5 separate regions of the Homo sapiens genome follow, and regions 1, 2, 3 and 4 are each linked to region 5. The links come from fine-mapping of genetic effects on gene expression. A gene starts in region 5. Each other region holds a variant in brackets. All regions are shown on one strand. Distances are between the middles of the regions. Region 1 has its middle 6.2 kb from the start of NF2. Region 2 overlaps THOC5 (THO complex subunit 5). Region 3 overlaps THOC5 (THO complex subunit 5). Region 4 overlaps EMID1 (EMI domain containing 1). Region 5 holds the start of THOC5 (THO complex subunit 5).

Evidence for each region.
Region 1: its variant is fine-mapped to the expression of THOC5 in whole blood (TOPMed, PIP above 0.99).
Region 2: its variant is fine-mapped to the expression of THOC5 in subcutaneous fat (GTEx, PIP above 0.99). The same link has a PIP of 0.9 or more in aorta, breast, thyroid and tibial artery.
Region 3: its variant is fine-mapped to the expression of THOC5 in whole blood (INTERVAL, PIP 0.95).
Region 4: its variant is fine-mapped to the expression of THOC5 in whole blood (TOPMed, PIP 0.94).

Annotation. Positions count from the first base shown.
Region 1 is chr22:29,594,761-29,600,112 of GRCh38, reverse strand. No RefSeq gene overlaps it. Among named protein-coding and RNA genes, the nearest start is that of NF2, 6.2 kb to the left of the region's middle. The variant C/T (reference allele first, on the strand shown) is at 2,973.
Region 2 is chr22:29,527,787-29,534,194 of GRCh38, reverse strand. THOC5 (THO complex subunit 5) reads left to right here. Exons shown (of 20, transcript NM_003678.5): 8 at 2,232-2,364; 9 at 4,956-5,033; 10 at 5,729-5,769; 11 at 6,018-6,117. Among named protein-coding and RNA genes, the nearest start is that of THOC5, 23 kb to the left of the region's middle. The variant G/A (reference allele first, on the strand shown) is at 2,586.
Region 3 is chr22:29,505,842-29,512,249 of GRCh38, reverse strand. It overlaps THOC5 (THO complex subunit 5), which reads left to right. Exons shown (of 20, transcript NM_003678.5): 18 at 114-229; 19 at 954-1,144; 20 at 3,730-6,371. The coding sequence ends at 3,793. Among named protein-coding and RNA genes, the nearest start is that of NEFH, 29 kb to the right of the region's middle. The variant G/T (reference allele first, on the strand shown) is at 3,800.
Region 4 is chr22:29,226,446-29,232,831 of GRCh38, reverse strand. It overlaps EMID1 (EMI domain containing 1), which reads right to left. Exons shown (of 15, transcript NM_133455.4): 5 at 6,281-6,342; 6 at 1,692-1,812; 7 at 1,150-1,239; 8 at 430-576. Among named protein-coding and RNA genes, the nearest start is that of EMID1, 24 kb to the right of the region's middle. The variant A/G (reference allele first, on the strand shown) is at 2,875.
Region 5 is chr22:29,549,698-29,555,899 of GRCh38, reverse strand. It overlaps THOC5 (THO complex subunit 5), which reads left to right and starts at 2,143. Exons shown (of 20, transcript NM_003678.5): 1 at 2,143-2,229. It overlaps NIPSNAP1 (nipsnap homolog 1), which reads left to right. Exons shown (of 10, transcript NM_003634.4): 10 at 1-1,092. RefSeq lists enhancers at 1,773-1,842, 1,226-1,923, 3,321-4,020 and a silencer at 2,243-2,432.

The sequences.
Region 1 (5,352 bases), 45 kb before region 5:
CTCGGGAGGCTGAGGCAGGAGAATGGCGTGAACCCGGGAGGTGGAGCTTGCAGTGAGCCGAGATCGCGCCACTGCACTCCAGCCTGGGCAACAGAGCGAGACTCCGTCTCAAAAAAAAAAAAAAAAAAAAAAGAATAAATACGGCCAGGCACAGTGGCTCACACTTCTAATCCCAGCAATTTGGGAGGCCGAGGTGGGTGGATCACCTGAGGTCAGGAGTTCAAGACCAGCCTGGACAACATGGTGAAACTCCCGTCTCTACTAAAAATACAAAAACTTAGCCTGGCTTGGTGCTGGGTGCCTGTAATCCCAGCTAGTCGGGAGGCTGAGGCAGGAGAATCTCTTAAACCCAGGAAGCAGAGGTTGCAGTGAGCCGAGATCGCGTCATTGCACTCTAGCCTGGGCAACAAGAGTGAAAATCCATCTCAAAACAAAAAATAATAATAAATAAATAAACACAGATGATAATTATATGCACCAGATAAGGGTCTGAGGGGGAATTCAGATAGAGCTTATTATGATCTGGCACACAGACCCCAGTTAATAAATATCTGTTGAATGAATGAGTGACGGTCATAAAGAAATACTTACGGTGTCAACTATGGTCTGGACAATATTAGTAGCTACCATATTTTAAATGCTTACCATATACAGCACTCTGCAAAGTGCTTTGCATGCTTTGTTTATCTTGATCTTCTTTTTTTTTTTTTTGACATGGAGTCTTGCACTGTAGCCCAAGCTATGGTGCAGTGGCACGATCTCGGCTCACTGCAACCTCTGCCTCTGGGGCCCAAGCAATTCTCCTGCCTCAGCCTCCAGAGTAGGTGGGACTACAGGTGCGCCACCACGCCCAGATAATTTTTTGTATTTTAGTAGAGACGGGGTTTCACCATGTTGCCCAGGCTGGTCTGGAACTCCTGACCTCAGGTGATCCACCCGCCTCAGCTTCCCAAAGTGCTGGGATTACAGACATGAGCCACCGCGCCCAGACTATTTTGACCTTTTTCAAAACCACATTTGGTAGGTGTAATATCCTCAGTTTATATCTGAGGAAACTGAATAAGGCTGAAAAGAGGTAATTTACCCACAGCCATGATTGGTAGAGCTGCAATTTGCATCTAGGAGTGGTTTCATCCATATCTCTCCTGATTTACACTTTGCTCTTCCAGATCAGTGTTTCTCAGATAGTGGTCCCTGCCCTACAGGGGACATTTGGCAATGTCTGGAGACTTTTTTGGTTGTCACAACTGGGGGATGTTCCTGGCCTCTAAGGGTAAAAGCCAATGATGGCGTTCAACATTCCACAATGCGCAGGACAACTCCCCACAATAAAGAATTATCCAGGTCAAAGTGTCAATAGTGCCAAGATAAAGAAACTGTGCTCTAGAGCAGAGATTTTTGTTTGTTTCTGAGACAAGGTCTCGCTCTGTCGCCCAGGCTGCAGTGCAGTGGCAAGATCATGGCTCAGCCTAGACCTTCACTGGATCAAGTGATCCCTCCGCCTCAGCCTCCCGCGTAGCTGGGACTGAGAGGTGAGGTCATGCTGGCAGCCCTCGCAGCCCTCGCTCGCTCTCGGTGCCTCCTCGGCCTTGGCACCCACTCTGGCCGCGCTTGAGGAGCCCTTCAGCCCGCCGCTGCACTGTGGGAGTCCCTTTCTGGGCTGGCCACGGCCGGAACCGGCTCCCTCAGCTTGCGGGGAGGTGTAGAGGCAGAGGCACGGGCAAGAACTGGGGCTGCGCGCGGCGCTTGCGGGCCAGCGCGAATTGCGGGTGGGCGTGGGCTCAGCGGGCCCCGCACTTAGAGCGGCCGGCCCGCCGGCAAGCCCCGGGCAGTGAGGGGCTTAGCACCTGGGCCACCAGCTGCTGTGCTCGATTTCTCGCCGGTCTTAGCTGCCCCTCCGCGGAGAAGGGCTTGGGACCTGCAGCCCGCCATGCCTGAACCTCTCTGCCACCGCCGTGGGCTCCTGCGCAGCCGGAGCCTCCCCGACGAGCGCCGCTCCCTGCTCCAGGGCGCCCAGTCCCATCGACCGTCCGACGGCTGAGGAGTGCAGGCGCATGGCGGGGGACTGGCAGGCAGCCCCATCTGCGGCCACGGTGCAGAATCCACTGGGTGAAGCCAGCTGGGCTCCTGAGTCTGGTGGGGACTTGGAGAACCTTTATGTCTAGCCAAGGGATTGTAAATACACCAATCAGCACTCTGTATCTAGCTCAAGGTTTGTAAGCACACCAATCAGCACTCTGTGTCCAGCTCAGGGTTTGTGAATGCACCACTCCATACTCTGTTATCTAGCTAGTCTGGTGGGGACTTGGAGAATCTTTATGTCTAGCTAAGGGGAATGCACAAATCGGCACTCTGTATCTAGCTCAAGGTTTGTAAATGCACCAATCATCCCTCTATGTCTAGCTCAGGGTTTGTAAATACACCAATAGACACTCTGTATCTAGCTAATCTAGTGGGGAGGTGGAGAACTTTCGTGTCTAGCTCAGGGATTGTAAACGCACCAATCAGCACCCTGTCAAAATGGACCAATCAGCTCTCTGTAAAACAGACCAATCGGCTGTCTGTAAAATGGACCAATCAGCAGGATGTGGGTGGGGCCAGATAAGAAAATAAAAGCAGGCTGCCGGTGCTAGCAGTGATAACCTGTGCAGCTTGTTTCATATATTGTGGGAGCTTTGTTTGTTTGCTCCTTGTTTGGGTCCACAGTGCTTTTATGAGCTGTAATATTACCTGCAAAGGTCTGCAGCTTAAGTCCTGAAGCCAGCGAGACTACGAACCCACCGGGAGAAAGGAACAACTCCAGAAGCGCCGCCTTAAGAGCTGTAACAGTCACTGCGGAAGTGTGGAGTTTCACTTCTGAGCCGGTGACCATGAACCCACCAGAAGGAAGAAACGCGGAACACATCAGAACATTAGAAGGAACAAACTTTGGACACGTCGCCTTTAAGAACTGTGACACTCAACATGAGGGT[C/T]CTCGGCTTCATTCTTGAAGTCAGTGAGACTGAGAACCCACCAATCCCGGACACAGGACTACAGGCATGCACCGTCACGCAACGTTAATTTTTTTTTTTTGGTAGAGACAGTTTTGTGATGTTGCCCAGGCTGGTCTCCGGGGTTCAAGCCATTTTTCTGTCTCAGCCTCCCAAAGTGCTGGAATTACAGATGCGAGCCACTGTGCTTGGCCTGTATGTTACTTTAAGCCACTAAATGTATAGCAATTTATTGCACAGCAATAGAAAGCAGCCAGAAAGAAAAACATTTTTTGGTAAAGAAATGGGAACTCACTCTCACCCAAGCTGGAGTGCTGCTGTGACACGATCATAGCTAATTGTGGCTCTGAGTTCCTAGGGTCAAGAGATCCTTGCACCTCAGCCTCCCAATTAGCGGGGGCTAAAGGCACCACCATGCCATGCTAATTTTTAAAAAATTTTTTGTAGAGACAAGGATCTTGCTATGTTGCCCAGGCTGGTCTCAAACTCCTGGCCTCAAGCGATCCTCCCAGCTTGGCATTCGAAAGTGCTGGGGTTACAGGTATGAGTCACCCAGCTCACCTCGCCCGACCAAGAAAAACAACTGTTGGGGCTGAGCGCAGTGGCTCACTCCTGTAATCCCAGTATTTTGAGAGGCGGAGGCGGGTGGATCACCAGATCGGGAGTTTGAGAGCAGCCTGACCAACATGGTGAGAACCTGTGTCTTAAAAAAATACAAAAGTTAGCTGAGCGCAGTGGTGCGTGCTTATAGTCCCAGCTACTGGGGTGGCTGAGGCAGGAGAATCGCTTGAACCCAGGAAGCAGAAGTTGCAGTGAGCTGAGATCGCGCCACTGCACCCCAGCCTGGATGACAGAGCGAGATTCCGTCTCAAAAAAAAAAAAAAAATTTAACTCGCATAATCCACTGACCCACTGCTATCGCATACTACTTATTGTTTTATGATTTGTTAATTTTATTTTTTTTGAGACGGAGTCTTAGCTGGGCTGGAGTGCAGTGGCGCAATCTTGGCTCACTGCAACCTCCTCCTCCTGGGTTCAAGCAGTTCTCTGCCTCAGCCTCCCGAGTAGCTGAGATTATAGGTGCCCGCCACCACGCCCGGCTAATTTTTGTGTTTTAGTAGAGACGGGGTTTCACCATCTTGGCCTGGTTGGTCTTGAACTCAGGACCTTGTGATTCACCCACCTCGGCCTCCCAAAGTGCTGGGATTACAGGCGTGAGCCACCACGCCTGGCCATTTGTTAATTTTTCATTCATTAATATCCTCACCCGTCACTAAATATTTTATAATATAATTTTCTAAGAAATGTACAGGACTTTATGTATGGATGTAAATTTTAAGTTTTTTTCTCTTACACACATTGTAACTCAAGTAATCAAGTTTCCTTCCTGCTGGTAAGAAGCTCAGAGCCAAATTGTATGTCTGCCTCTGGCAATTGTACTTGACCTTGCCTTATTTTTGGCTTTATTTTATTCTTGCTGCTCTTGCTTACTTTACAGTGAATTTTTCCCTACCCACTTACTATTTAATTGTTGCACTAGCTGTATTTCTTTTTACACAGTTATAGATCTCTTATTTAAGGTTTTGTTATTGTTTATTCTTCTTGGGACAAGACCTTACATAACAAATTTGTTTTTTGAGATGGAGTCTTGGTCTGTCACCCAGGCTGGAGTGCAGTGGCGCGATCTCGGCTCACTGCAACCTCCGCCTCCCAGGTTCAAGCAATTCTGTCTCAGCCTCCAGAGTAGCTGGGATTACAGGTGCCTGCCACCACGCATGGCTAATTTTTGTATTTTTAGTAGAGACAGGATTTCACCATGTTGACCAGGCTAGTCTCGAACTCCTGACCTCAAGTGATCCGCCTGCTTCGGCCTCCCAAAGTGCTGGGATTACAGGCGTGAGCTACCGCGCCCCACCAACAAAGTATTTTTTAATGTGTATAATTTATAAGCTTTTTATTTTGACCTAATATTGGACTTAAAACCTGCAAAAATAGTAGAGTTTCTCTATATCCTTCACTTAGCATCCTCTAATGTTAACATTTTAGTTAATCGTAATACAATGATCAAAATCAAGAAATTAACATTGAGGCCTGGTGCCTGGCTCATGCCTGTAACTCTTAACACTTTGGGAGGTCAAGGTGGGTGGATTGCCTGAACTCAGGAGTTGATGAAGAGCCTGGCCAATGTGACAAAACCTCATCTCTACTAAAAATATAAATTAGCTGGGCATGGCGGTGCATGGATGTAGTCTCAGCTACTCACTGCCAGCTCCACCTCCCTGGATTCAAGGATTCTTGTGCCTCAGCCCTCCCTTGTAGCTGGGACTACAGGCGTGTGCCACCACACCCAGCTAATTTTTGT
Region 2 (6,408 bases), 22 kb after region 5:
TCATAGTATATACTCCTATGTCTGGCTTCTTTTGTTCAGCAGTATGTTTCTAAGATTCATCTGTGCTATTGTGAGTACAAGAGTTTGTTTTCATTGATGTTTAGTAATTGGTTGTTTCCGGTTTAGGGCCATTTCAATAATGCTGCTATGAGCATTCTTATACATGTGTTTTGGCATACATGTGTACATCTGTCTGTTGAATATATACCCAGGAATGAAATTCTAGGTCATACAGTATGTTATACATATATTTAGCTTTTGTAGACACTGAAACAGTTTTCTAAACTGGTTGTACCGATTTACAGAAATTCCCACCAGCACCATATGCAAGTTCTAATTGTTTTACATCCTTGTCAACACTTTATACTGTCAGTCTCCTTAATTTTGGCTACTCTGGAGGGTATCTCATTATAGTTTTAATTTTTATTTCCCTGAGGACTAGTGATGTTGAACACAGCACATTTTGCCTTTTGGATAACCTCTTGTGATGGGTCTAGGCAAGTCTTTTGCCTGTTTTCTGTTGGGTTGCCTGGAGATGAGTTTTTTCCCAGGTCTTCCCCATTCTGTAACCTCCTGCCTTTTCACTTTGCTAATGGTATCTTTTAATGAGTGCATGTTCCTAATTTTACTAATTATTCTTTTCCTTTATGGTTAGTACTTTTTTTGTGTCTTGTTTAAGAAATCTTTCTATTTAAATCTGTTGTCATCCTGGAAGTGATTTTGTTAGTTAAGGGTAAAGATTCATTTTTTCTTTCCACATAGGTATTTAGCTGACCATTTATTGAAGACATTCTCTTTCCACTGCTCTGTAGTGCCACTTTTGTTACAAATCAAATGTCTTTGTACATGTGGATATGTGTATAATCTCTGTGTCCATCCTTGCACAGTATCACACTGTCTTATTTACTGTGGCTTTATCAGAAGTCTCGATGCACAGTTCCAACCTATTTCTTCAGGATTGTCTTGGTTATTCTTGGCCCTTTGCATTTACATACAAGTTTCAGAATCAGGTTGTCTGTTTTCACCTGCTGGGATTTTGACAGGGATTGCATTGAATCTGCAGACCACTTTAGAATAAATTGTTACCTGGACAATATTTGAGTCTTCCAGGCCATTGACATTCACATGTATCCACTTATTTTAGACTTTTCATTTCTCAGGTTTTTGTGTAGAGGCTTATATGCCTTTCATTTGTTTATTTTATTTTGTTTTATTTTGAGGCAGGGTCTTGCTCTCTTGCCCAGGCTGGAGTGCAGTGGTACAATCTTGGCTCACTGCAACCTCCGTCTCCCAGGTTCAAGTAATTCTTCTGCCTCAGCCTCTGGAGTAGCTGGGATTACAGGTGCGTGCCCCCACACTTGGCCAATTTTTGTATTTATAGCAGAGATTGGGTTTCACCATGTTGGCCAGGCTGGTCTCAAACTCCTGACCTCAGGTGATCCACCTGCCTCGGCCTCCCAAAGTGCTGGGATTACAGGCATGAGCCACTGCACCCAGCCTGCTTGTTTATTATTTTTTGTTTGTTTTTTGAGACAGAGTTTTGCTCTTGTTGCCCAGGCTGGAGTGCAATGGCATGATCTCGGCTCACCGCAACCTCCACTTCCTGGATTCAAGTGATGCTCCTGCCTCAGCCTCCCGAGTAGCTGGGATTACAGGCATATGCCACCACGCCCAGCTAATTTTGTATTTTTTTTAGTAGAGACGGGGTTCTCTGTGTCCGTCAGGCTGGTCTTGATCTCCCGACCTCAGGTGATCCATCTGCCTCAGCCTCCCAAAGTGCTGAGATTACAGGCGTGAGCCACTATGCCCGGCCTGTTTATTCTTATTTGATGTTTTATTGATGGTATTGAAATGGCATCTTTTTATAATTTCTTTTTTTAAATTGATTTTTATTTTTTGTGGAAATGGCATCTCGCTAAGTTACCCAGGCTGCTCTTGAACTCCTGGCCTCAAGTGATCCTCCTGCCTCAGCCTCCCAAAGTGCTGGGACTATGGGCATGAGCCAGGGTGCCCTGACAGTAGGTAAAATAAAACAATTTTATTTCCTTACTGTTTGTTGCTAGTATAAAGAAATATAATTTTGTTTACGTTGAGCTTTTATCCACCTATTAGTTCTATTAGTTTATCATGTATCACTTTTATAAATAATGATTTACGGTCACTAAGTAGCCACTTTTTCCTGTGTGGACTGGCTAAAAAAGGAAGAACAAAAATCTGTCTCTTGTGTGCAGGCTTCCCTTCCGGTGCAGGAGTACCTGTTTATGCCATTCGACCAGGCTCACAAGCAGTATGAGACAGCCAGACACCTGCCGCCTCCCCTCTATGTCCTCTTTGTTCAGGCCACTGCGTATGGGCAGGCCTGTGGTGAGTATGGGGCCTGGGTGAGGACAAGGGGCTATGGGAGCAGCAGCTGTGGCCGAGTGAATCAGTTGGAAGCAGTACCTGCTCAGGAAATTTCTCAGTCCTGCCCGAAGCCCTCAGGTGACAGAAGCTTTCTTCCCTCTGCATTGCCCAGCATGGCTGCTCTGACCAGCTGGCCTAAGGCTGGATTAACCTGATGGGTATTTCACAATGGGTGGCTTTGA[G/A]TCATTCGTGAGCCTGGCTGGACAGCTCTTGGGTGCAGAACCCAGGCAGCCTGTCTGGGCTCCCAGGTGCTCACCCCATCAAGGCACGCTTGGCAGTTAGATCAGTGCCTCTTGCTCTGCTTCAGGGTGGGGGTGCCTGGTGAATACAGGTCTCAGCCAGCTCTCCCAGGCTTTCACCATGCCTTGAATCAGGCTGCATGTCTTTGTTGTGAATTTCCAGGTTAGATGATATGTCCTCATTAAGCTTGAGGGCAGCCTGTGACTCTGCTAGGGTTTTGAGAAAATTTTGGAGACTCTGCCTTTTGCCCTAATGCAGCTTTCACCCAGCACCTACATTTTCTCCCCCACCCCACCCCACCTCATCAGACAGACATACACCGCACCAGTGCTTGCTTCTCCTCCCACCTTGGGCACCAACACATTACTGTCTCTTCTTGTGTCTTCCTCGTCCTTCTGGTCCTCCCCTCCCCTTTGTTCTCCCTCCTGTTTCCATCATCAGCTCATATGAAATCCTCCCAGCCCCCTAGACAGGGTGAGTAATTTTCTTTTCTTTTATGTTTAAAATCGGCCTGTTCCATTCTGATGTTCTTGTAGAATGCTAATATTAAATGGCTGAAAAAAATAGTCTGTTGTTTGCCAGTGCTTGATGGGAGCAACTAGTTGCTTGGGGTGAAGGGTGGTGATTCACATAGGGTTGCCATAGATAAGGCAGTGGTCAGCCACTTGGGGGAAGTTTGCCATCCCTCCTTAGTGTGGCTAGGCAAACCGTTTCAGGCTCTTGGGACCATATGTACCCTTAAGAATGGAGTTGGACGGTGGTGGCCTGTCTGACCTCACAACGCTAGACCCTCAGAGGGGGTCTCAAGACATCACTCAATGAGGTGTCATACCTGGTGTATGCAACAGGCTGTTAGCTCATGTGCTGGAGAGGCCAAGCTTAAGTTGAACAGACCTGGTCTTGAATCCTGGTTTATCAGCCTTATAGCTGTGATGTCTAGCTTCTCTGAGCCTTAAGTTTCTCATCTATAAATGGCTATAATGTATTACTCCTGTAGGGTTGTTGTGAGTATTAAAAAAAATTTTTTTTTTTGAGATGGAGTCTGGCTCTGTTGCCCAGGCTGGAGTGCAGTGGCATGATCTTGGCTCACTGCAACCTCTGCTTCCCAGGTTCAAGCAATTCTCCCTGCCTCAGCCTCCCAAGTAGCTGGGATTACAGGCACCCACCACCGTGCCTGGCTAATTTTTATATATTTAGTAGAGACAGAGTTTCACCATGTTGGCCAGGCTGGTCTCGAACTCCTGATCTCAGGTGATCCACTCACCTTGGCCTCCCAACCAGACATGAGCCACCACACCCAGCCTAAAAATTAATTTTTAATAATTTTATAATTAAAATTACAAGCATCAGCTCATTCAGTCCCCACCACTAATGGGGCAGCTACTGTTTTTCTTTTTTCTTTTTTTTTTGAGACAGAGTCTCACTCTGTTGCCCAGGCTGCAGTGCAGTAGCATGATCTTGGTTCACAGTAACCTCCACCTCCTGGATTCAAGCAATTCTCCTGTCTCAGCCTCCCAAGTAGATGGGGTTACAGGCACATGCCACCACACACAGCTAATTTTTGTATTTTTAGTACAGACGGGATTTTGCCATGTTGGCCAGGCTGGTCTCTGAACTCCTGACCTCAGGTGATCCACCTGCCTCGGCCTCCCAAAGTGCTGAGATTACAGGTGTGAGCCACTGCACCCGGCAGCTACTATTTTTCAAGTCCCCTTTTCATAGATACAGAAACTGAGGCTCAGACAGTGACATAACTTTCCAGGTCATGTGTTTGAGAATTGGTTAGGCAGGGACTCAGGTCTGGAACTGGACTGCAAGATCCAAGTTCCTATTCACTGTCCTACTGCCTCCCAGTTAAGTGAGACAATGGCAGCCATGTGCTTGGTATAGTGTAGAATAGAGAATAAGCACTTAGGTGAGAGTCATTGTTTCTGGGATGTGGACAGGTGTGGATTTCTGGGTGAGAACCTCTAAGACAACTGGCAGAGGAGTTCCATGTGGCTTTAGGCCCTCAGTTTGAATTTCTGTGCTTTGGTGTGCACCAAAAAAGAGAGGCATTCACTGCTAGTTTCAGGTGATGCTGGTTTAGGAATTTGTACTTAAGTTCTCTGTTCTCAGTAAATGACGGAAAAAAAAGCTTAAGTGTCCCACCTTGTTTCCCTTCATCTGGAGCAAGGACTTTTGCCCTTCCACCCTTAGTCAGCAAGGAGCTGGGCAGAGGTGGGAGAAATGCAGCCCCAGAGCTGGCCTACTCACACTGCTTAGCAGCTTTCCTCAGCAGCTTTCCTAACAGACTTCTTCTTGCCCCCCAGATAAGACGTTATCTGTGGCAATCGAAGGCAGTGTGGATGAAGCCAAGGCTCTGTTCAAACCTCCAGAGGACTCCCAAGGTAATGTGGTGGTTGGGATTCGTCCCCCAGGGACACCAGGTCACCATCCAAGGGCAGTCCTGGTCTTTGGAGAACTAGCTGGACTAGTTCTGTGTAGCAGGAAGCTTGACTTGAATGTCTTAGCACCCTGGAGTAGACAGGAAAGAGAGCTCACTTCCCGGAGTCACAAGGTGCGGCCCGTGGATTTCAGCCCTGCCACTCACTAGCTGACTGACCCCGAGGAAGGTATTTAATATTTCAGAGCCTCAGTTTATTCCTTTGTGAAAACAGATAGTAACACCTCATGTAGGATTGTTATGTGGATTAAATAAGGTAATGCACATACAGCCTTTAGCATAATTCTCAGCACATAGTACCCCCTCAAGTTATGCATGCTTCTACTACTATTATTATTATTTGTGTTACTATTATTACCACAGCCACCACCACCATCACAAGGAGGGGCTTGTGTTCCATCTAAATGACATCAAAAAGCCCTTTGAAAAAAATGAGTTATACGTCATTCTTCTTTTTTCTTTTTTCATCACCATGTTTTGTATACTGAATAAGAAGCAGCAAGTTAATTTATTATTTATTACAGAGAAACTTATTTACAAAAGACAGAGTCAGGGCCCCTTTATGCCATGTGGGTTGGAGTGCTTTAGGGAGCATTTGGAGCCCCCTCACCTCTAGCTGCCTTCTCTCTGTGGCTGCAGATGACGAGAGTGACTCAGATGCCGAGGAGGAGCAGACTACGGTGAGAACCATTTCCTCTTGTGGGGGCATCAAGCAGCTGCATGCACTGGGGCATGCTTGTTCGCAGGTGCCGTCCTCCCTAGAAGCAGAAGAGGTGTGAAAGAAGGTGCTGCTGGGAGGGGAGTCTGACAACCCAGCTAGCTGAAGCAGCAGGTGCCAGGCAGTAGGGCTGAGGCCTGGCTGGTTGGGAGAGGGAAGGGGAGATTGCTATGACTGATGCTCATCAGCTTGGCACTTTCCTTTGTCCAGAAGCGCCGGAGACCCACACTGGGGGTTCAGTTGGACGACAAACGCAAGGAGATGCTGAAGAGGCACCCACTGTCTGTCATGCTCGACCTGAAGTGCAAAGGTCTGGTTGCACTCACCTTGTTTAAGGGATCTGTAGCACCTAAGAGTTCACCCAGCTGCAGGTGCAGAGGGTCCGGGAGCCAAACACCCATTTGCCCAACAAAGGATTCCCATTTCATATTGCTTTGTTTTTCCTTATTGTTTTGCATGGACTTTGTTTCTTTTTGTTAAATCATAACCGTAACAACATAGCAACAAAACTCCAGTCACATAAGGCAGAAGCTTGAGAAAACTATACCTCTTTCTGAATCTAGCAAGTCAAATATCTAGAACAAGTTGCAAAAGTATACAG
Region 3 (6,408 bases), 44 kb after region 5:
TTCAGATTAATAGGAGACATCTGAGCTAGCCTCAGGGGTGCAGTGGGGAGGCTGCCATGGCTGGCAAGCTGAGTCTTAGAACTGCGCATTTCCCCTCTCTCCTCTCTTCCCAGCCAAACTGCAGGCCGCTGTGGTGTTGAACCCTGGCTACTCCTCCATCCCACCTGTTTTCCAGCTCTGTTTGAACTGGAAAGGGGAGAAAACCAACAGCAACGATGACAACATTCGGGTAAGACCCAGCTGGGGATGACAGGAGGAGCAGGCAGAGCTCCCGGGGGAGGTGGCCGTGGCAGAACCCACTGCAGCTGAGGACTTGGGCACTGCCTTAATTCCCAAAACAGAAGGTTGTGCCAGGATTTGCAGAATTTGCTGGAGCTTGTGTGGTGTACTAGAGGAAAGAGCCCAGACCTACTTGCCTACCTTGGGGTCCACAGGTTTCCCCACTTAGAGAGTAAGGAGAAATACCTACCTTGAAAGGTTATTGGCTTGGGCTCCTATAAAAAATGTGAATAAGCTCTGAAGCATTATAGAAGCACTGGAATGACATGAGGAATGACATCACTGCAGTTGTTAATCAGCATTGCAGCTGTTAATCAGCATTGCAGTTGTTAATCAGCATTGCTGCTACTAAGTCAAACATGCCATGGAACACGTTTTTAACCAACATCTTCTGACTTAGGTCTTATTTTGAGACTGCTTCCCTGCACACCTCTGTTTTCCTGGCTGTGGGCATATGAGGCAGGGAAAGCTATGGGTCAGAATCAGGAAGACCTCATTGTCTTGATGAGGGGGCCTGAGGACAAGCCAGTCTAGCTTGATCTGATGGCCTAGCCCCTGGCCCAGCCCCTGCAGAGGCATCAGCGCTCGGGCCCATCCAGGGACGGAAGCCTGGCCAGTGTGGTCCCCCACATGCAGGAAGGTAGTGCTGAGATGCTGGCTTTCCTATCACACAGGCCATGGAGGGCGAAGTCAATGTGTGCTACAAGGAGCTGTGTGGCCCTTGGCCCAGCCACCAGCTGTTGACCAACCAGCTGCAGCGGCTGTGTGTGCTGCTGGATGTTTACCTGGAGACCGAGAGCCATGACGACAGTGTGGAGGGGCCCAAGGAATTTCCCCAGGAGAAGATGTGTCTGCGGCTCTTCAGGTGAGGAGAGGGTTGGGGCTCTGGTGACTTCTCATGGTGATGTGGGACAGAGATCAGAGCCAGATTTTCTGGGGAGAGCTTGCTTCTTCCTTCCTGAAACTTCCCCTGCAGCCGATGCCTATCACTCTGGTCCACCTGTTTTTCACTAACACCTCCTGAAGGTGTTAGTGCCAGGTCTGAGCCAAGAGGATTTGGCTGAACTTTATTTTCTATACTTTCTGTGGAAAACAATAGAGTTTGTTTGCTTTTTAGTGTCCAAATAAGCTTTTTAAACTGTGTGCATCCTCGCCTGTCCCCAGGGAGTCTGCTGTGGTCTTTCTAGGGTACTGTCCTGTCAGTGAGAATCACAGCTTAGGCAGTCAGGTGGCACAGAAGGAACCAGCTTCAAAGTAAAACAGATAGGAGTGCAGATCTCTGTTTTGCTGCTGACCTTAGAAGAGTCAGTTCTGCTTAGCTCTGAGCCCTCCTCCAGCTTTTTGTTTGTTTGTTTCCTTTTCTTTGAGACACGGTCTTACTCTCTTGCCCAGACTGGAGTGCAGCAGCATGATCATAGCCCACTGTAGCCTTGCAGTCTTGACCTCTGGAGCTCAAACGATCCTTCCGCCTCAGCCTCCCTAGTAGCTGGGACCACAGACATGCACCGCCACACGCAACTAATTTTTAAATTTTTTTGTAGAGATGGGGTTTCACCATATTAGCCAGGCTGGTCTCAAACTCCTAGGCTCAAGTGATCAGCTTGTCTCAGCCTCCCAAAGTGCTGGGATTACAGGCATGAGCCATTGTGCCTGACCCCTATTTTCTAAAGACAGAAATGGTGAAAGTAATACCTTCTAGCTCATGATGAAGCAGAAGTAATTCATATAAAGTCCTGGCACAGGACTGGGACTCGGAAAATGCCAGCAGTTCCTGACAGCTTGGTACTCAAGAGTGTCTGGGCTCATGGCACTTCCAGCTACTTTTCCTTTCTCTTTCATTTTGGGTCCTTTATTTCCCTTTCAGCCTCTAACTCATGTTCTTTTAAGAGTCAGTTTCAAAACTGCAGATTTCACTGCTCAGGCATCCCTTCCCTTCTGCATGAGGTTGGCGGGGAGCAGTGTTTGGGAAGGAAGAAGAGTGATAATCTGTTTCTAATCAGAACATCCCCCCTTGTTCCCTGTCAGTCTACACAGTGCCTTATCTCTCCCTCACCTTGTTCTCTGTTCCCTGTCAGTCTAAGCAGTGCCTTACCTCTCCCTCACCTTGTTCTCTGTTCCCTGTCAGTCTAAGCAGTGCCTTACCTCTCCCTCACCTTGTTCTCTGTTCCCTGTCAGTCTAAGCAGTGCCTTACCTCTCCCTCACCTTGTTCTCTGTTCCCTGTCAGTCTAAGCAGTGCCTTACCTCTCCCTTACCTTGTTCTCTGTTCCCTGTCAGTCTAAGCAGTGCCTTACCTCTCCCTCACCTTGTTCTCTGTTCCCTGTCAGTCTAAACAGTGCCTTACCTCTCCCTCACCTTGTTCTCAGACAGCCAGTTCTAGCCCCTAGAAGCAGTCCCAGCATCCTTTCACCTCATCTGACACCTCCACTGGCCTGGTTCATTATGTTATCTCATAATAACCAGTTCCAGCTCTGAGTGGCTGCTGGGAGGTGGAGCTGGTGGCCAGATGCTGGCACCTTCTAGGACTTGCTCTCTCCCTAGAGGGCTTGTGTGAGACCTCTGCTCTTCTCACCTGCCCAGCCCATTCTAGCACATTGCCAGGGTGGGAATTCTCACATGGCCAGCATTGATTTCCTCTTCTCCAGTGGTTCCCAAAGGACCCATTTCTTTTTCTTTTTTCTTTTTTTTTTTTTTTTTGAGACAGAGTCTCACTCTGTCGCCCAGGCTGGAGTGTAGTAGCATGATCTCGGCTCACTGCAACCTCCACCTCCCGGCCAAAGGACCCCATTCTTGAAGGGCTTTGTTGTGTCTCCAGGCTGAGCTCCTCTGTCAGCATTCTGGGAAGGTGCTCCTTCAGTGACTCAGATCCAGTTAACTCTATGGCCGGTAGATGTGAGAGGCAAGGCTCTCCGGCCAGGATGCAGAGTGCTGGCATGGGCAGCAAGAGACCTGAGGCCAGGAGTTCCACCAGCCTGGCCAACATGGCAAAACCTAAACTAAACCTCAACCTAAACCCGGGCGTGGTGGTGCATGCCTGTAATCCCAGCTACTTGGGAGGCTGAGGTACAAAAATCCTTTGAACCCGGGAAGCAGGGGTTGCAGTGAGCCGAGATCACGCCACTGCACTCCAGCCTGGGCGACACAGAGACTCCGTCTCAAAAAATAAAAAAAGGAACAATCCTAAAAAGTGAGGGTGCCTAAAGCTATGTCCCCGAAGTGCCACTGTCAGTGAGGGCCTTTCCAAGTTTGTGTTCACTCATTTGCAAGCACAAAAAGACATTTTTACAAAAATAGTATCGCACCTTATATGTTGTTCTGCCGTATGCTTTTCTCAACAACATTCTGTGTCATGTAACTCTGCCTCTTCTTTTTCCCTTGTGTGAATGAACCATAATTTATTTTATCAGCCTAGAAGGTGTGTTATTAACAACTCCGTTCTCCTATTTCTCTAGGGGTCCTAGCAGGATGAAGCCATTTAAATACAACCATCCTCAGGGATTCTTCAGCCATCGCTGATCTCCC[G/T]CGCAGACCGTTGTTTCCCCCAAGGCCTCACCCTGAGCACTGGGCTTCTGCTTTCTGCTCTGGCCCACATGTGACTCTTGATATTCTCCAAAGACACCAGCCAATTAAAAAGCGTCACCTGACCAGTGGCCTTTGTCTGTGGTTCCTGGCAAGGTGGCTTTGCAGTCTGGAAGGGCAGGTGGGAGCTGTGACACAGTGTGAAAAAGCATTTGTAGAGAGACTTTTTCTCAGCAGCCAATAAAAGCAGAGTGGAAAAAGATTCCAATTCTGCAGAGAGATGCTCACCTCTTGTCTACGCACACCCTATTTGTGCTTTGCGGGGTGAGGTCCTCATGATCTTGTATTTATTATCCCAAGTTCCTGCTGTTAAGAGGTGGTAGGAGAAGCCAAAGGCAGCAGAGCACAAAAAGCAAAACTCTTCCCTCCCCACCCGCTCTTCCCATTAGTCCTGTCAGGGTTGCCGATGGACAAATTGTCTCTGATCGTTGGATGTTATAAATGTCTGACAGTGCAGTGCAAACAGAAGACAAACTCAGTTGATCCTTGAACAACTCAGGGGTTAGGGGCACCAACACCCCCTGCCCTGCACAGTTGAAAAATCCGTGTATAACTTTTGACTCCCTAAAAACTTAACTAATAGCCTGCTGTTGACCAGTAGTATGCTATTAGTAGTTACTTACTGCTAACATAGTCAGTACATATTTTCAGTATATATTTTGTATCTTATACACTGTATTCTTACAATACAGTAAACTAGAGAAAAGAAAATGTTATAAGGAAAGTCACAAGGGGGCCTGAGTGCAGTGGCTCACGTCTGTAATCCCAGCACTTTGGGAGGCCAAGGCGGGTGGATCACTTGAGGTCAGGAGTTTGAGACCAGCCTGGCCGACATGGTGAAACCCTGTCTCTACTAAAAACATGGAAATTAGCCAAGCGTGGTGGCGCATGCCTGTAGTCCCAGTTACTCAGGAGGCTGAGGCAGAATTACTTGAACCCATGAGGCAGAGGTTGCAGTAAGCCAAGATCACGCTCCTGCGCTCCGGCTTGGGCGAGAGTGAGACTCCGTCTCAAAAATAAATAAATAAGAAAGCCATAAGGAAGAAAATATATATCTACTATTAAGTAGAAGTGGATCACCATAAAGGTCTTCACATACTGTCTCAGGGTTGAATAGTCTAAGGAAGAGGAGGGGTTGGTCTTGGTGTCTCAGGGATGGCAGAGGCAGAAAAAGTGGGGGAGGTGGAGGGGGAGGCAGGCACCACTGTTATTTTTATTGAACAAAATCTGTGCAGGGACTCATGACTGTAATCCTAGTACTTTGGAAAGCTAAGGCGGGAGGATCCCTTGAGGCCAGGAGTTCAGGTCCAGCCTGGGCAACGTAGTGAGAGACCCTGTATCTACAAAAAATTTAAAAATCAGCCAGGTGTGGTGGTATGCACCAATAGTCCCAGTTACTCAGAAGGCTGAGGTGGGCGGATGACTGGAGTCCAGGAGTTCAAGGTAGCAGTGAGCTATTCATCGTGCCTGTACTGTACTCCAGCCTGGGAAACAATGCGAGTCCCTATCTCTAAAAAATTTTAAAAAAAGAAATCTGCATATAATAGACCCACAGAGTCCAAACTATTGTTCAGAGATCAACTGTACTTCACAGAGAGTAATTCTAAGTCTTACAGGATTTCATGGAGATGGCGAGAGTGGTGTTGGAGAATCAATCACATACAGAGATACAGGACAGTGAGACCAGGTAACATTTGAGGAGAATATTTTTTTTTTATTGAGACAGGGTCTTGCTCTGTTGTCCAGGCTGGAGTGCAGTGGCACGAACACAGCTCACTGCCGCCTCAACCTCTCCTGGGTTCAAGTGATCCTCCTGCCTCAGCCTCCCAAGTAGCTGGGACCACAGGTGTGTGCCACCATTTCTGGCTAATTTTTAAATTTTTTGTAGAGGCGGGATCCCACTATTTTTCCCAGGCTGGTCTCAAACTCCTGGGCTCAAATGATCCTCCCACCTCGGCCTCCCAAAGTGCTAGGATTATAGGCATGAGCCACCACACCCGGCCTGAGTAGAGTCTTTAAGGTAATGACAAAAGTGCCTCAAAATATAATTATTTGATTAAGAGAAGTCTTGGGAAGATAGGTAACAACCTTTAAAATGTTCATAAAATTACATCCTTTGTAATACTCCTGCAAGTCAAAGTAAAGGATGGCATAGACTATTCTTGGACAGTTTTGTCAAAAAGTGTATCTTGACCCCACCATCAGTACTCCATTCTTCATTTTAAAAAATAAGATGGGCTGGGCACAGTGGCTTACGCCTTTAATATCAGTACTTTGGGAGGCTGGTGGGCGGATCACCTGAGATCAGGAGTTCAAGACCAGCCTGGCCAACATGGTGAAACCCCGTCTCTACTAAAAATACAAAAATTAGCTGGGCATGGTGGTGCGCGCCTGTAATCCCAGCCACTCGGGAGGCTGAGGCAGGAGAATTGCTTGAATCCCCGAGGCGGAGGTTGCACTGAGCCGAGATGGTGCCACTGCACCATCTGGACAACAGAGCAAGACTCCGTCTTGGAAAAAAAAAAAAAGATGTAGAAATGTAAAAATATTTG
Region 4 (6,386 bases), 320 kb after region 5:
AAGCCAAGGACGCACGTCAGGGCCTGGAGGAGGGGCCGGGCCTGTGGCCTTGGGAGTTCAGGACTCACTTCCTGCCGCCGGGTCTTTTGCGTCCCAGTGTTCCGAGAACTGGATTCCAGCCAGTTCCAAGGCTTGGGAGGGCCTGATGCCCGGTGGCTCTAAGCACAGGTTCTGGAGGCAGCCTGGGTTTGAAGCCGTTCCCCTACGCCCAGGCTGTGGGACCCTGGCAAGCCACCTTCCCTCTCTGGTCCTCAGTGTTCCTCACCTGTAACCACAGGAGGACAACGGCGCCTGCTGGAGGACTGGGTCACATGTGGCCTATCGTGAGCAGGGCTGGCACACAGAAGGCACGTGGCAGATGGTAGCGGGCACTGTGCTGATGGCTACTCCACCCCCACCTCCACCTGCTGGGATCCCAGGGGGACTCACCATGCTGGGAGATCCGGGCATGGGGTGGCCCAACAGGGGCTGGGGGCCCAGGGGGGCCAGGAGGCCCTGGTGGCCCAGGAGGTCCCCTCTCTCCAGGGGTGCCCACAGCTCCAGCCCGGCCAGGGCTCCCTGGGGGGCCCTGTGGACCTGCAATGGAATCACACGGATTTGTGGGTATACAGGAGGCAAGGAGGCCCAGGGTGGCCTTGAGCGACAGGACAAGGCAGCCTGGAGCAGTGGGCATGAGAGAGGGCCCCGGAGTCCACAGGCCTAGGCTGCCTGGTAGTCTAACAGGGGGATGAGCACAGCACCTAGTTCTCCACCTCGTCCAGGCTGAGTCTTCCTTCCTTGGGGCTCCCAAACCCCCAAAACCCCTCATAGAAACCCTGGTCACATGGGGCAAGCATTGCTGCTTCTCCTCTGCCCAGCCCTGCTCCCAGCAGCATGGAAGCTCCAGAAGGGCAGGGACATGTCTGACCCCACCCAGTGCCCAGCTCAGAGCCTGATAAGTGTAGGTGCCCAGGGAATGTGGGTCAGTGAACATAAGAGAGGACTTCATGGAGCCCAGGCGTGGGCAGGGCACTCCGTGGTGGGGTGCTGAGTGAAGAGGCAAGTAGATGAAAGGGCCCAGGTCATCCTGGCCATGTCAGGAGCAGGGAAGGGCCCACCTGGTGGAGGGGATGGCCAGAGGAGCTGTGGGGCAGCATTGCGGGCACTCACCTGGTGGGCCTCTCATCCCCATTGGGCCCCGACTGCCGGCATCTCCCTTGGGGCCGGTGGGCCCGGGAAGCCCCCAAGCACCGACTTGGTCTGGGGGGTAAAGCATATCAGACTGGCAGCTCCACATCTGCTCTTGACCCCCACCCTGGCCCCAGCCCCCCAACCAGCATCTACCATTTCGGGGAAGCAGCGGGACCCTCACACTCTCTATGGCTCCTGGCAGCCCTGGGGTGGGGGGGGTAGGCAGAGGTCAGTGTCCCTGCTGGGCCTGGAGGAGGGAGGCTCATCCAGAATCCCCACTCCCAGCTCCCCCCGACCTCCAGGCAGGGTCTGCTGGGGCTGCTTGGTCTCCAGGGACTGCAGCATTCAGGAGTCCCAGGAGACGGTCCTCTTAGGCGGGTCTAAGAAACGGGAAATGGGAAGACTGAGGCCCACTAGAGGGTTAAGTTGGGAGTCAGCGACAGGGTGGGGACCAGAATCCCACTTCCCCGATTCCCAACCCACTGCTCATTCCCACAGGGGAGTCTGAGTCTGACACTCACCCTGGAGGCCTCCATCTCCGGGGCTGCCCTGGGCAGGAGGGGGACCCCAGAGCGGGGCAGGGTCCTCAGGGGTAGCTGGTGTTGGAGGTACTGGCTGCTCTATGACAGTCAGCATGGTCATCTGAAGAGGAAGACAGGGACGGGGTGGGTACCAGGGTCTCACTAGGACCCCTCCCTATTTTTTTTGAGATGGAGTTTTGCTCTGTTGCCCAGGCTAGAATGCAGTAGTACTATGACGGCTCATGCAGCCTCAACCACCCGGGCTTAAGCGATCCTTCTGCCTCAGCCTTCCAAGTAGCTGGGACCACAGGGATGCACCACCACACATGGCAAATTTAAAAAAAAATTATTTGTAGAGACGAGGTCTCGCTATGTTGCCCAGGCTGGTCTTGAACTCCTGGGCTCAAGCAATCATCTTGCCTCAGCCTCCCAAAGTGTTGGGATTACAGGCATGAGCCAGGGTCTCACCACGGACAGGCCAGCCAAGGGGCCTGGTGTGGGAGGCAGGAGGCACATGGCCAGCAGGGCCCAGCTTGGAGTGGAGCCCCAGGCTCGCAGGGGCACCGAACTTCATCAGAAGTGACAGTGTTTTTCAAAGCACACAATTCATAACACGCATTATGGAAAAGTCACTGACACCATCATTGCCATCAAAGTTGAGCTTTGTGACTGTCGCGGTGCTTGCTGGGCCATGTGCTTTTTCTCTATGGTTATCCAAATAAGAAGCTTGTCTTGATTTCTTAAAGCACCACAGGGTATGGCTGGAAGAGTTTCACTTAGTTTGTTTTTTTGTTTTTTTTTTTTCCAAGATGGAGAGCCTTGCTCTGTTGCCCAGGCTGGAGTGTAGTGGCACGATCTCGGCTCACTGCAACCTCCGCCTCCCGGGTTCAAGTGATTCTCCTGCCTCAGCCTCCAGAGTAACTGGGATTACAGTCATGCGCCACCACACCTAGCTAATTTTTGTATTTTTAGTAGAGATGGGGTTTGACCACATTGGCCAGGCTGGTCTCAAACTCCTGACCTGAAGTGATCTGCTTATCTCAGCCTCCCAAAGTGTTGGGATTACAGGCGTGAGCCACCACTCCCGGCCTTTCACTAAATTTGGAAGGAAGTTTGGAAGAGTCTGACATGAAATAGAAACCTGGAGGTGTACACAAAGTCCACTTTTGGGCCCATGGTGAGG[A/G]AGACTCTGGGAAGCTGGAAGTGTCCCCTCAGCTGCTGAGGACCAACGAAAGGCCAGATGACCACAGATCAGGGGCTCAGGGATCGTGGGGGCCTGTCCAGAGAAAAGCTGAAACTCTCTGGCAGATCCTGAACCAGGAATTCCCATCAAGATGTGGGACTGAGTTGCCTCTTACATGGGCTTCTCCTGGGAGGGAGCTCAGGGAACTGCTCCTGGAACCCCGTGCCTTGTAACTCAGGTGCCAGCACACGCTATTTGGAAGCTTGGTTTTCCCATTTGATAAATCAGGGGCATCTTCTTTTTTTTTTTTTTTTGAGGTGGAGTTTTGCTCTTGTTGCCCAGGCTGGAGTGCAATGGCGTGATCTTGGCTCACCGCAACCTCCGCCTCCCAGGTTCAAGCAATTCTCCTGCCTCGGCCTCCCTAGTAGCTGAGATTACAGGCATGCGCCACCAAGCCTGGCTAATTTTGTACTTTTAGTAGAGATGGGGTTTCTCCATGTTGGTCAGGCTGGTCTCGAACTCCTGACCTCATGTGATCCGCCCGCCTCAGCTTCCCAAAGTGCTGGGATTACAGGCATGAGCCACCGCGCCCAGCGGCATCTTCTTTTTTTTAATTTTAGAGACAGGGTCTAGCTCTGCCGTCCAGGCTAGAGTGCAGTGGTGCTATCACGACTCACTGCAGCCTTGTCCGTCTGAGCTCAAGTGATCCTCCTGCCTCAGCCTCTTAAGCAGCTGGGACTGTGTGCCAGCTGTGTGCCACTAAGCCTAGCTAATTTTTTGTAGAGATGGAGTCTTGCTATGTTGCCCAGGCTGGTCTCGGGCTCCAGGCCTCAAGCAATCCTCCTGCTTCGGCCTTCCAAAGTGCTGGGATTACAGGTGTGAGCCACCATGCCCAGCCTAGAGAAATCTTTTCATATTAGGGAAGGGAAGTATTGTAAATGGCTGCTGAATGCCCCATAGAATGAATTCTCCACAATTATACAACCATGCCTTCTTTTGCCTGGTTTTCAAATTTCTCTATTGGTAAACATTTTTGCATCTGATAATCTCATTAAGTTCCCAGGCTGGGCACAATGGCTCACATCTGTAATCCCAACACTCCTGGAGGCTGAGGCAGGAGGATTCCTTGAGGCCAAGAGTTCAGGACCAGTTTAGGAAACATAGCAAGACCCCAGCTCTAAAAAAAGTTTTTTAAACTAGCCAGGTGTGGTGGCACATGTCCGTAATGCCAGCTACTCAGGAGGTTGGGGCAGGAGGATAGCTTGAGCCCAGGAATTGGAGGCTGCAGTGAGCTCCAACTCACGGCAGATTGCAATGCCTGCACTCCAGCCTGGGTGACAGAGCAAGACCCTGTTTCTGAATCAAAACAAAACGAACAAACAAAAGATAAATTTCCAGAGAAGGGAATGATGGAGCAAAGAATGGCACTAAAGTGTATGCATGTCTGTGTGTTTAGAAAATCTGGAAGAAAGGATGCTTAAGTGTCGACAGTTGCATTCTTTGGGGGCATGGGCAACTGCTGTGAATGGTTTGCTGGCTGTTTTTTCACATTTCTGAATTTTTCATGTTTCTAAATTTAGAATGTTGTACTTTTTAATTTAAATTAATTAATTAATTACTTTTTTTTTTCTTGAGACGGAGTCTCGCTCTGTCGTCCAGGGTGGAGAGCAGTGGTGCAATCTCGGCTCACTGCAACCTCTGCCTCCTGGGTTCAAGCAATTCTCTGCCTCAGCCTCCCAAGTAGCTGGGATTACAGGTACCTGCCACCACACTCGGCTCATTTTTTTTTTTTTTTTTTTTTGAGATGGAGTTTCGTTCTTGTTGCCCAGGCTGGAGTGCAATGGCACAATCTCGGCTCACTGCAACCTCTGCCTCCCGGGTTCAAGCGATTCTCCTGCCTCAGCCTCCCGAGTAGCTGGGATTACAGGCATGCGCCACCATGCCCGGCTAATTTTTGTATTTTTAGTAGAGATGGGGTTTCTCCAAGTTGGTCAGGCTGGTCTTGAACTCTTGACCTCAGGTGATCCGCCCTCCTTGACCTCCCAAAGTGCTGTGATTACAGGCGTGAGCCACGGCACTCGGCCCCGGCTAATTTTTTGTATTTTTAGTAAAGATGAGGTTTCACCATCTTAGCCAGGCTGGTCTTGAACTCCTGACCTTGTGATCCACCCGGCTCGGCCTCTCAAATGCTGAGATTACAGGCATGAGCCACTGCGCCTGGCCTAATTTGTTTTTTTTTTTTTTTTTTTTTTTGAGACAGAGTCTCGCTCTGTTACCCAGGCTGGAATACAGTGGCGCAATCTTGGCTCACTACAACCTCCACCTCCCAGGTTCAAGTGATCCTCAAGCCTCAGCCTCCTTTGTAGCTGGGATTATGGGTGTGTGCCACCATGCCAGGCTAATTTTTGTATTTTTAAAAGAGACAGGGTTATGCCATGTTGGCCAGAATGGTCTCGAACTCTTGGCCTCAAGCAATCCACCTGCCTCGGCCTCCTAAAGTATGGAGATTACAGGTGTGAGCCGCTGCGCCAAGCAGTACTTTTTAATTTAAAAAAAAAAAAAAGTTTTATGGCAGCGCAGCGGCTCACACCTGTAATCCCAGCACTTTGGGAGGCCAAGACAGTGAATTGCTTGAGCTTAGAAGTTCAAGACCAGCCTGGGCAACATGGAGAAACCCCATCTCTACCAAAAATTTAAAAATTAGCTGGATGTGGTATTGTTCACCTATGGTCCCAGCTACTCAGGAGGCTGAGGTGGGAGGATCATTTGAGCCCAGGAGGCATAGGTTGCAGTGAGCTGAGATCTCGCCACTGCACTCCAGCCTGGGCAACAGAGGAAGACCCTGTTTCAAACAAAACAAAACAAAAAATACACAACATTTTATCTTGAAATAATTTGAGATGTGTGATAGATGTTTTGTTTTTGAAACCAGGAAGATAGTATTATGGATGGGGGTTGGGGGGATAGAGAAAGGGGATGGGGCAGGGGCAGGCAGGAGATCCTACCAGGATCTCTGGGCAGTGTCTATGCTGATCTGGTGGGGATGGTGATGGAGCCCCATGGGAGGGAGCTCACAGGCCTCCTGGAGGAAGAACAGGCCAGGCTGGCTGTGACTTGCGCTTCACATATACAGTTTTCCCTGAGTGGATGCTAGTATCCCCTCCGCTTGACAGGTGGGAAAACTGAGGCACGACCTGTGAGCAGGCTTCCTAGGGAGGGACACTGGAGGAGACCATGACATGCCTGACAGGGGATGCTGCTCGCCGAGTCAGTTCAGAGCTGCCCTGTGGGTTCACTGAGGGTGCGAGCATGGGGTGCGGGGAAGGAGGTGGGGAGGGTGGGATGGTGGTTGCCTGGACTGGCCTGTGGCAGGGAACAACCACCCAGGAGGGAGCTGCTCACCCACCTTGGCCTCCAGCACCTTCAGCCGCTCTGTCAGCTCTGACACTTTGCTGCAGTTGAGACAACCTGCGGGGAGGGAGGAAGCTGGGGCCAGGGCCAAGGGTCCTAGG
Region 5 (6,202 bases):
TCAGGCAACCCCGACAGACAGTGGCACTCCTGGTCCTGCTGTCTTGGTTTTGTCTTGGCTCTGGGAGGACTCTGAGGGGCAGTGCTCAGTTCAGACAAGGGGGAACTGAAGGCTGACAAGTTCTGAGGATTACAGCTCTGCCCAGGCCCTTTCTACTTTCCCTGCCTGCCTCCCTCCCCCTGCTAGAAGTAGTTTCTGATTTCCCTGAATGAAAGATAGTGATCTTTTAGGCCTTCATTTATCTTCTAAAATTCCTCATCTCAAGGCCACCAGTCCCCAGTTATCACCCTTGGAAATCCTCTGTTTAGCTTAGTTGCACAAAAGGTAGTATGTCCAGTGGCTAGAGGTGGGGTGGGAAGAGAGGAGGCCAGGCCAGGCCCTCAGGAATTCCCTGGTTTCCACTGGGCCACCCACTTGCTGGACAGTCTGAGCCAAGTCCCTCCTGCTGGAGAAAAGCCTGGAACTGCCAAAACAAAAAAACAAATACAAACAAACCTCGTCACCACGGTCAGGAGGAGGTTCAGACATTCTGCCCAGAGGGGCTGGGGAAAGGGATGGGAGCCAGGAAAGATTTAGGGGCAGGAGACAGACACGTAACAGGAACTCGGAAGGTAGAACTTAGAATTCAGAACTTGGGTTTCAATTGTAGAATTTGGAATCTGGAATACAGAATTGGGAAGAAGAACAGAGATGACAAAAGACCACTTGAAGAGAGGTTCCTAATACTAGACAGATGGAGAGTGGCTTGGCTGTTTCCCCCTGCATATTGGGGTTGAAAACTTAAATGTGTAGTTCCAGTCCTTCTATGCAGAGTCTCTCCTGCCCTCCCTCCTTCCTGCAGGCAAATATACAAGCTAGACCCTGTTCCCTCACCCTGTATCCTGTCTCCCCTAATTGACATTCTATCAGCCCAACCCTCATTCTGCAGGGCCACCTGGTGTGTGGAGGTGGCGGGAGGGGTCAGTGACTCTGGGGGTCTCCTCAGTGACCCCCATACCTCATCATGAACCCTTGGGTAGCTTGATTCTGCCTACCATCCAGGAAAACTTGTGCTGGAATTGCTGATGGAAACAATTAAATATTTACTATAAATCAGTGTCTTTTCTTCATCTGCAAGGAACTTTAGCAGGTGCCTGAGGCAGGGCACAGTAGAGCTGGTGGGCTTAGTCCCACATGGCAGATCTACCCTCCTGGAGGGTACTGTGTTCTTGAGCTATTCTCAACAGTCAGTACTGGTTGGGTGCAGTGGCTCACGCCTGTAATCCCAGCATTTTGGAAGTCCGAGGTGGGCAGATCACTTGAGTGAGGTCAGGAGTTCAAGACCAGCCTGGGCAACATGGTGAAACCCTGTCTCTACTAAAAATACAAAAATTAGCTGGGCATGGTGGTGCATGCCTGTAATCCCAGCTACTTAGGAGGCTGAGGCAGGAGAATCCTTTAAACCCTGGAGTCGGAGTTTGCAGTGAGCGGGGATTGCGCCACTGCACTTCAGCCTGGGTGAGAGAGCAAAACTCTGTCTCAAATAAAAATAAAAATAAAAAAGAGCCAGTATTTTCCTCCTTGCTCCTGGGAAGGAGAAGGAACTGGCCCCGTACAACCAGGGATTCAGGACACGTGTTACTAGCTCCAGATGAGGATTTACACGAAAAAATCCTGGGCCTTGTTTGTACAGTTCATGCCAGGGGTAGGAAATACCTGAAGCTTTCAAATACTGCGTTAGAGTTGTGACTCTGTCCTGGGCAAGTCAGGCCTAAAATGGAGAAACTGGTGATGCACTCCTCAAAAAGCCAAGTGTAAAATGAGGTTAATGCCCTCCCTGACTTGTTGCCTTCACTGGCGTGGCATATTATGGTAAAAATAATAATTAAGAAGTAAGGTTATGCAGGCAAATCCTCTAGCGCCGAAATCTTCCCCGCCGCGCTACCAGGTTCTTTCGTGTTATCTTGGACATAACACAACATTAATTCAACTACTCGGTGGAGCGCCCACTAGCTGCTGGACACTCTCTTAGGCCCTGGGCACAGTGAACGAGAAGCATGTGTCTTTGTTTTTACAGTCTCACCACGCCACCACCTCCCTCGGGGGCCTCCGCGCTGAGCTTCCGGCCTCTACGCCTCGCTTCCGGTCGGCCGCCCCTTCCTTACTTCCGGTTCTCTATGGTGCGCGGGCAAGCTTTGCTCCGCCTCCGGCAGTGGCTTACTCCCGGTGCCAGGTTCTTGGAGCTGTGAGGTGAGGAGGGGACAAGGGCAGTGGGGCTGGGAGATGGGGCGGGGCTGGGCGCTCCGGGACTGAGGTGCTGATCGCCCAAAGGGCGCCCCTGGGCTGGGGTCTGACCCGGCTTCTCCTCCCTCACTACCCGCGGTCCCCGGCCTCTCGGCGCTGCGCTGTTACCTCATCCGAAAAGTGTTCGCTGCAGCATCCTCAGGCTTCACGTTGGAGCCTCTTGATTGTGGTAATGTAGCCTGATGGGGGTGGGGGTGGTGGTGATGGTAACAGCTCACATATATCGTGCTCTTCGGTGTGCCAGGCACTCTACTGTGTTGCCAAAGTCAGGATTTCCCACACTTAAGCCTTTCAGGTCCGGTCTTTGTAGGCTTTGCCAGATCAACTTACCACCTCTACTACCGTTTATTAAAAATTTGTTTGTTTGTTTGTTTTAGTATTTATTGATAATTCTTGGGTGTTTCTCGCAGAGGGGATTTGGCAGGGTCATAGGACAATAGTGGAGGGAAGGTCAGCAGATAAACAAGTGAACAAAGGTCTCTGGTTTTCCTAGGCAGAGGACCCTGCAGCCTTCCGCAGTGTTTGTGTCCCTGGGTACTTGAGATTAGGGAGTGGTGATGACTCTTAAGGAGCATGCTGCCTTCAAGCTTCTGTTTAACAAAGCACATCTTGCCCCGCCCTTAATCCATTTAACCCTGAGTGGACACAGCACATGTTTCAGAGAGCACGGGGTTGGGGGTAAGGCTATAGACCAACAGCATCCCAAGGCAGAAGAATTTCTCTCAGTACAGAACAAAATGGAGTCTCCCTTGTCCACCTCTCTCCACACAGACACAGCAACAATCCGATTTCTCTATCTTTTCCCCACATTTCCCCCCTCTCTACTAGACAAAACCGCCATCGTCATCATGGCCCGTTCTCAATGAGCTGTTGGGTACACCTCCCAGACGGGGTGGCGGCCAGGCAGAGGGGCTCCTCACCTCCCAGAAGGGGCGGCCGGGCAGAGGCGCCCCCCACCTCCCGGACGGGGTGGCGGCCAGGCGGAGGCGCCCCCCTACCCCCGACCCGACGGGGCGGCTGGCCGGGCTGGGGCTGGCCCCCACCTCCCCCCCGGACGGGGCGGCTGGCCGGGCGGGGGCTGCCCCCCACCTCCCGGACGGGGCGGCTGCTGGGTGGAGGGGCTCCTCACCTCTCAGACGGGGCAGCCGGGCAGAGACGCTCCTCACCTCCCAGACGGGGTCGCAGCCGGGCAGAGGTGCTCCTCACATCCCAGACGGGGCGGCGGGGCAGAGGTGCTCCCCACATCTGAGATGATGGGCGGCCGGGCAGAGACACTCCTCACTTCCTAGACGGGATGGGGTCCGGGAAGAGGTGCTCCTCACTTCCCAGACTGGGCAGCCGGGCAGAGGGGCTCCTCACATCCCAGATGATGGGCAGCCGGGCAGAGACGCTCCTCACTTCCCAGACGGGGTGGCGGCCGGGCAGAGGCTGCAATCTTGGCACTTTGGGAGGCCAAGGCAGGCGGCTGGGAGGTGGAGGTTGTAGCGAGCCGAGATCACGCCACTGCACTCCAGCCTGGGCACCATTGAGCACTGAGTGAACGAGACTCCGTCTGCAATCCTGGCACCTCGGGAGGCCGAGGCTGGCCGATCACTCGCGGTCAGGAGCTGGAGACCAGCCTGGCCAACACAGCGAAACCCCGTCTCCACCAAAAAATACGAAAACCAGTCAGGCGTGGCGGCGCGCGCCTGCAATTGCAGGCACTCGGCAGGCTGAGGCAGGAGAATCAGGCAGAGAGGTTCCAGTGAGCCGAGATGGCCGCAGTACAGTCCAGCTTCGGCTCGGCATCAGAGGGAGACCGTGGAGAGAGGGGGAGGGGGGAGGGGGAGGGGTTTACTAAAAATTTTTAATCCAGTCCAAATTTTTTTTTTGCAACGGGATCTCTGTTGTCAAGACTGAGTGCAGTGGCGCGATCATAGCTCACTGCAGCCTGGAACTTCTGGGCTCAAGCCATCCTCCCACCCTAGCCTCCAGAGTAGCTTGGGACCACAGGTGTGCACCGCCATACTAGGCTAATTTTAAAATGTTTTCTAAAGATGGGGTCTCGCTCTGTTGCCCACTCTGGTCTTGAACGCCTGGGCTCAAGCGATTCTCTCACCTCTGCTTGCCTTGGTTTCCCAAAGTGTTGGGATTACAGGTGTGAGCCATGGTGTTGGGCCCAGTCACTTTTTTTGTTGTTGTTGAGACTGAATCTCGCTCTGTTGCCCAGGCTGGAGTGAAGTGGCTGCGATCTCGGCTCATTGCAACCTCTGCTCCCTGGGTTCAAGTGATTCTCCTACCTCAGCCTCCTGAGTAGCTGAGATTACAGGCGCCCGCCTCCACTCCCGGCTAATTTTTGTATTTGTGGTACTGACGGGGTTTCACCATGTTGGCCAGGCTGGTCTCAAACTCCTGACCTCAGGTGATCCACCCGCCTCAGCCTCCCAAAGTGCTGGGATTACAGGCCTGAGCCACTGCGCCCAGCCAAGTCACTTTTTAAACTCAAATTTACTTTGAGAGAAAACTTGAAATCTCTCCACCAGAAATGGAAAGCTGCTTTCACTTGTTTTATGTAGAAGGTAAAAATTAATATAGTTAATATAATGCAACTAGATCATTGTTAACAAACTCTGGCTAGATTTTGTTGTTTAAGGCTGTGGGATAGAGTTCTTTTGTTACAAAGGAACATTGGCATTCATAGATGTTAAAGACAAACTAGGGAACTGAGATGTTCTCCTTGAAGCAATCAGAAGTTTCAAAATAAGAATTGAAAAGGGATTAACTTTCTCCTTAGGTGTTCAGCATTATTTAAGATCACCTATGCATCATCTGAAGCCACAGTCCCAGGTCATCTTCATCACCTTCCCCAGTGGAATGCCTCCTGTGTTAAAGCCCACAACAACCCCTGTGGTAGGGACTGTTATTCTCATTTGATTTGTGAGGAATCAGACCCAGAGAAAAGTGAAGTGACTCGTCCGGGGACTCATAGCCATGAAAGAGTAGAATGGAGATTCCAGTTCAGGGCTCTCTGACTTTTACCGTGACAAACTATTGGCTCCCTCAAGTCGGGGATGTGGAAGCTTCAGTGAGTGATGATTGTGCCACTGCACTCCAGCTTGGGTGACAGAGCAAGAGGGATTAGGGTAAAGGGGACAGTGCTGCCCACCTCAGGAGGCTGTGGTGAGGCAACAAGGGAGGATGCTTTGTGACTGTAGAGCCCCATGAAATGTAGGTTCTATACTTTAAATTCTAGGATCAACCTGGGAGTCAATGGCATCACTAGATGAGAGGCTGGCAGGACTAGGAGGCATAAAAGTGTAGTTAAGAGCACCAGTATGGCATTGATTGGATAGATCCGGATTTTGGCCTACTAGTCATGTGACTCGCAATTACTTGCAAGTAATTCCCCTTGCGAGCCTCAGTTTTGTCATCTGTGAAATGGTGGTAGTTCTTAGCTGAAAAGTTTGTTATAAGGAGCAAATGAGAACATACCCATAAAGTAGTTAGATCAAGGCCCAGCACACAGTGATCACAGTAGTATTGGGAGTGTCTTTAAATGCCAGACCGAGGAGTTTGGATACTAATTTATGGAGCACTCTGCCAGGCTCAGGGGGAAGAGGGTAGAGCTCACAATCTAGGTGGGAAGACAGGTAAATGATTCATAGAGATAAATTCCCTAATAGTGTACCCAAAGTAGCCAAAAGAGGGCTTTGGGGAGACCTGACAGGCTTCCTAGAGCAGATGAGCATTGCTTAGTCTTGAAGGATATAGGGAGGAAAAGGAAGATCTTTGCAAGCAGGGGAAAAGACATGGAGTGTTTGGGGAACTGGGATTGCAGGGTGCAGTTGCAGCTAGGAGCAGAGGTTGGGGACAGTGGGAAGGTCGGTAGGAATAGGAATGCAAGAAATGAAGTTGGGAAGGTAGGTTGGGGACAAACCAT